Homo sapiens: one gene and its partner. The protein of the gene in region 2 purifies or fractionates together with the protein of the main gene of each other region. This does not show direct contact. Each region holds a gene or a part of one and is shown on either strand. Other genes may lie near its edges.

Region 1 (3,489 bases), on a different chromosome or scaffold from region 2:
CTCCTCCCTGAGCAGGGGTCTCTGTTGACTGCCCCCACCTCTGCCCCTTTCCAGGGAGGAGCCGACCTAGCTGCAAAAGCAGACACCGAACAGGTTTTCTCCCAAGGACAGAAAGGGGCTGCTTTGTTCTTCTCAATTTATCCAAATCAGGCAGGTCTCAAGGGGGAGAAAATGGGTCTTCAATCTTCATCAAGTCCACCATTAACACCCTACCTCTCTAATCTAGCCCAGGCGCAGGGAACAGGAGGAAGTCATAGACAGGCCTGTGTTGGAATACAAAAATGGCACGCAAACACTCAGGCGGAGGAGAAAGCCATTGGGCCTTTGCTACCTGGAGGCACCCTTTAGGAATGGGCCTCCATAGAGTGTTCATTCTGCTGGAATACATTGCCCTGGCAACTAAATGATTTTTTATTTGTTTTAGTTATTCTCCACTCAGTGAATCATAGGTGTTCCGGATCTATTTGAAATGCTCAAACAGCAAATCACTAGTTTTAATCCCTTTTGATGCTATAATTTTCCTTCCTTGGTTTTGAACGGTTCAGCTTGCGGGGACAGAGACCCATCGTGCATGTCTCCTAAATGAGACACGGATGCAGCTCATCCTGGCACTTGGGCCACAGAGGAAGTGCCACAAATGCACACAAGCAAATCAACCTGTGGACACTGGAGTTAATAGTCACTCGTGTGGCTGAGTTACTCACCTGTCATTCCTGACATGGATCCAGCCTTTAAGCTTGGGAGGCTGACAAGGAAATAGTTACTATGCCCGCTGCTAATTCACTGTTCCGAAGTCCATGTAGATAAACATATACCGAGTTCTGGCGTGGCCAAACCTGCCGGGGACTGCCGTGGCTTAGCTGCCCCTCCAGTTGTGTTTATCGAAGCATTGGAGAGGCAGCCACCTGCCCATCAGCGTCAGGAACGCAGAACTGGGACTCCGTGCTTCCCCCACACCACAGTACTCAACTGGGGACTGAAAAATAGCAGTTCCAAGAAGCTTTTCTCCTAATCCTCATCAAAAGGACCTCATTTGACGATGGTGGCTTGATGTGGCTCCGTCTCCTACTTAGTGATTTCCATTCCAGTGCTGCCTGCCCTGGGTAACTGCGCACAACATTGCCTGCCCCTCCGCTGTCCCCAGAGCTCCGGCCTCTGTCGCCATCAGCATCAGCCTGGGAGTCTCCCCAGGACGGCATGGCACGTGAGCAGCACTGCAGTCCTTGGGTCTTCGGCGCCAACCTGCAACCCTGATCAAAGGAGGGTGAGGGCGTGGGAGTTTCCTTTCAGGTGTGTCAAAGACATATCAGCTGCGCTCTAGAAAGAGCCAACGGGTCAGCCGCTTCCTCCTAGTTTAACTTGATTTTGAGTGATTTGTCCATATGGAAATAGTAGGGTAGCATCAAACTGCGTGATTAAATTGGAAGACTGTCTTTCCGTGTGAACACAGGATGGCAGACATCAGAGGGCTACCGGGGCAGGGTGGACACGTTCCTGAGGAGAAGCCAGGGTCTGCAGCTCTCCATCCTCCCCGGTAGCTCCAGCTGCAGGGCTGAGCTGCTTCCTATCCCCTCAGCTCTGATCTCTGCCACTTCCCTGTTGTGTGGGAGAGTGGAACACTCCTGGGATGCCAGGCATTTCATAATGGGAGGAGGCTCCTGTAAGGAACGGTGGGCGCCCGCTCACAGTGGGGGGCCCTCCAGCATGGTTGCTGACTCTGTCAGCCCCCAGCCCCGGGTTGCCAATTAGCCAGAGAGCTCCTGCACACACAGCACTTCCTTCCCCAGTGTGTTTTCTACCCAGATGGGGACAAAGGAGCCAGACAGTCATATCAAGGGCAGAGTTCAAACATTTTGAAATGAGCCATTCACATGCTTCTTTTTAAACATGGGCATCACCTGCCCAGAGGCCCTTGGCCTGAAGCAGCATGCTGCTGACCTTGGGAAGAGAGGGTGGGCTGGTGGGGGTGCTGGAGGAGCTGCCCGGCCCTGCATCTGCAACCCTCCAGTCCCCTGCCCACAGAGCACGCAGAGCCCTCCTGTGCTCCGGGAACGAGATAGCAGCTTGGCAGCTCGGCCTCGCATCTGAAAAGGAATACGCTGCAAAGCCTCGGCCCTAGACCCACATCTGCAGCTCCCTGGCCTGTGGCGGTTCTTTCCTTCGGGGCATGCCCTTCCAGATCTCTGTCCCTCCTGTCTTCTAGCACTTTAAAGATGCCCCTTATCATCAGATAAAGAGAAGTATGGGGACGATGGGGTGGCACTAACAGTAGATGTCATTGGTGAGGACTGATGGCAAAGTCTCATTCCCTCACAGCCGCGCTGCCAGCTCGCCTCCCCCTCGCTTTGCTGGGAGCCTGCCCTGGACTCCAAAAGGACACGGGTTCACCTCCTTTCCCAGGCTGGAGGGGTACTGCCCTTCCCTGAGGGGCCTTCTGACTGGGGCAGGAACTCTTTTCGTGTGTCCAGCTGGGCCTGGAGGCCAAGTCAAGGTGTGTCACACCACACACCAGGGCAAGGACCTCATCTCCAGGGAACAGGGACAAGTGAGTGGCTACCAGAAAGTCCCCGGGCAGCCTGGAGTTCCCCAGAGCCTGGCTGGTCCTACAGAGCACTTCTCCCCTGGGCCACCAGGACCAAAGCGACCTAAACACTTGAAGCTAAAAGCAAGTGCTGATGATGGGATGGGCTGGCACGTGGCTGGGAGGGCTCCTGGGCACCACAGAGCCCTCAGCCCAGCAGAGAGTGGAGGCTCAGTCCGTGGGGAGCGGGGGTTGTGAAGGAGACATGGCCAAGCCCCTGGTCGGGGAGATAAGCTCCCCCATGCCCAGGCCAGCCCCAGGGGCAACAAGCCAACATGGAGAGAGGTGGCAGGTGAGGCTGACAGGTGGGTGCCTGTGGCCTGGGCCCATGAGGGCAATGGTCCTCAGTAACCAATGGAAAGGACACAAGGGCGCCATGGTCACCACCACCCAGGCAAAGAAATGGGAGGTGGCCAGCACCCCCACCCTTCACTTTTCATTATTATTATTATTATTATTATTATTATTTTTTTTTTTTTTTTTTTTTTTTTTTTTTTTTTTTGAGAGTAGAAAGGCAACTTCATTGGAGCTTTTGGGGAAAAAAGCCTTCAAAGTCACCTTCTGGCAGCTCTGGGGAGGGTCATTTGGGGTGGACTGAGAGTGTAGGGCAGGTAGGGTGTGTGCTGGGCAGCAGCTGTGTCCATGCAGCCAGCACCCAGCAGGGCAGTCTCACAGGAGCCGTTGTGAGCACTTTGGACTTGAAGCAGCTATGAACCACCCCCCGCCCCCACCGTCTCTCCCTCTCACACACACACACACACACACACACACACACACACACACACACACACACCCGTTTTACCATTTTCTCAGTGCTTTTTCTGCTTTCATTCCTTTGATTTTAGTTAGAAGCACAAGCCATGATGGATGTGGGACTCTTCTCAATTGCTCTTTAAATTGTCACTTTT
Region 2 (2,640 bases):
GTGCTGAAGCTAATCATATTTATGTCTGTCTTTCTCTACTTTTCCCTAATTCCCTCTCCTCCTGACTCCTGTAGACATTCCCAATGATACCCACCGTCATACATTTAGGCTTTTCTTGCCTTTCCCTGAAGCCCTGTATTTATTAATGCATATATTTCCCCTGCTTGTTGTACAAGTAAGTTACTCTTTTCCTTTAATCTGTAAGATTCATGAAATTCGGGGCCAGGGAAACAGTTTAGCCTTAGGGAAGGGAAAACACTAAGTGAAACTGTTTACAATAACCTCATACAACCTTCTGTCCCATCTCCTGGTTCAGCCTAGGTGTTTCACTGGTCCTCTATGAATCCCAGCACTTATAATCCCAGTCTTTTATCACTCAGGTGCTAGGAAAAAAAACATAGACTCAAGACCCAAGATTCAATGGACCAGGAGAAAGGGGGGCGGTGATCAGGTCACCAGTGACCCCAACCTATGCTCTCGGTCTTTCCTGGAGGCTGCCAACCCAGCCCTCATCCTCCCTTGCTCACAAAGTTACAGGGTAGGCACCTGTCAGGACAGAACAGCAGCAGCGCTACAGCCCAGAGGTTATACATTTCAACAGAACAGGGATCCTTGGCTACTGTAGAAGCAGTCCTGTATGGAGACCTTGGACCAGCAGGGGAAGATCTATGGGCATGGGAGGTGGGCGTTGGAAAGGCTGAGTAGGAATGGTGCCTGGCACCCCTGAACCATGATCTGAGCCTCCCTGGAGAAGGTATTTTATATGTCTGCTGCCAGCTGCTGGTCTCCACACCCTCAACCGTTCTCAACCCCCCTGCAGGGAGAAGGCCTCCTGGGCACTGTCCTTCCACCTGTGCCAGCCACCCCCTGCCCCACTGCTGAATGAAGGCCATTTCAAGCGCTGCTTCTCACTCCATTCCTCTCAGCTGTTATTGCTGCAGGGCCAAGCCCTTTTTAGTGCTGTGCTCGTCCAGCTCACCACCACAGCCCCTCTCAGCCCTCAGTAGGTGGGAGGGGCCAGCTGCCTCTTTAGGCCAGTTGCATCCTCCATTTATCCAAACCACTCCTCTCCTCCCAGTGGAGTGGGGTTCTGCCAGTACAGCCCTACTGCATCATCTGCGTCAGCCGGTCCTAGCCCATCTGCAGGGTGAAAGAACTCATCAAGAGCTCCTTCTGCCCTTGTAAGCCCATCCCAGCTACTTGTAACCATCTCTAAGGGCAATGGCATTGCTCCCTACCCATTCATCTGCATGAGCTACTCTTGGCTTCCTTAAAGGGTCAAGAAAGCAATTTTTCTGCTTACTAGATTCATTGAGATCAGCTGTGTGAGCCCCAAAGTGGGACAAGGGTGTCTCCTTCATTACTTAAAGATATTCATGAGGGTGGGTCACTACAGATGTTGGGGAGCAAGGGCTAGGATCACTTTTTAAAAAATCACCACTTGTGGCTGTCCCAGAGTGCGGTTGTACATCCTCCCCACCTCATAACGCAGCCACTGAGGAAGAGTGGTTTTCCTAAGAAGACATTGCTGGAGTTGACTTTCTTCTGTCCAAACAAACAAACAAAAACTAAACACACACACAAACCCCCAGAAACCCACAATATGTACACGCTAAGGAAAAACTAGCACCCTTCTGTCCACTCAGCAATAAGAGGGATCTCTTCCCACCTACCCTACCTACTCCTACCCCCAACCCCCTTCCCCATTAATGTGAGTAATGAATTAGCCTGACCACAGGTGGTCACTGTAGGCTAATGGAAAATACCCAAGGGAGGGCAAAGCCCCCCATCAGATGCATGAATGTTTGCGAATGTTGACTGCCACTGCCCCACACACTGTGTCTTTATAGAATTCCCCTTTGCCCACCCTCTTCCTGTCTCCACCTGGACACAACTTGCTCAAAGGCTGGTGACTTGTGGGCCATTCATCTACAACCAAGTCCTGATGGAGCAAGAGGCCCACGCCTAGGGGATGCAAGAACAACCCGTTTCTTAAATGTTACCAGTCCCAGCCAATCTTACGGTGACATTACAGTTAAATTTCCCAATTGAAAACAAGCAAACAGACACTCAAACTGGTCCTGTAATTGTTGCTAGACTTTATGTGTTGTACAACTAAACATTGCTGTTTGAACAGTAACTGCCTGGCCTGTCTTATTTGTGCTCCTTGACCAAATCAGCCATTATGTCATCTCACCCATGTGTGGAGGGTGAGACTCTCTTGGTAAGAAATAGCCACAGATATTAGAGATGAAAACACTTTGTGAGGTCAGTTCATCTTCAGTTGGCGTCAGGTCGGGCCTCAGTCATTATTTTCTAGTGTTTCATAACCAAAGTGAGTAATGGATGGGAGGTTGAGGTGGGAAGATGGCTTGAGCATGGGAGGTTGGAGGTGCAGTGAGCTGAGATCATTCCTGACAGGACCAACCCAAGTCCATACCTAAAGGCAGGGGGCTAAGGGGGCAGGTGAGGTCGGGAGGCCACTCACCTATCACTCACCCCTTCGCGCTCGAGCCAATTCTCAGGGCCCGCCTCTTTCTCCCCTTTCTCGGCGGGGGCCTCTACCCTGACTCCGCCCCGCTCCCCGGGCACTGCCCCACCACGTGACCCGGTCTCGCTCCTCCTCCTCCTCCTCCTTAC

The links. The genes of interacting proteins can lie anywhere in the genome.
Region 1: the proteins of SEPTIN3 (region 2) and BTBD9 purify together in Homo sapiens (affinity purification with mass spectrometry; 3 studies listed by BioGRID and IntAct, with this or other methods). This does not show direct contact.

What each region holds. Positions count from the first base shown.
Region 1 is NC_000006.12:38,171,441-38,174,929, reverse strand, and holds part of BTBD9 (BTB/POZ domain-containing protein 9), read left to right. Parts: 3' UTR 1-3,489.
Region 2 is NC_000022.11:41,996,082-41,998,721, forward strand, and holds the end of SEPTIN3 (neuronal-specific septin-3), read left to right. Parts: exon of another isoform or gene 1-820; coding exon 821-886; 3' UTR 887-2,140; downstream 2,141-2,640. UniProt on the Homo sapiens protein: Filament-forming cytoskeletal GTPase. May play a role in cytokinesis.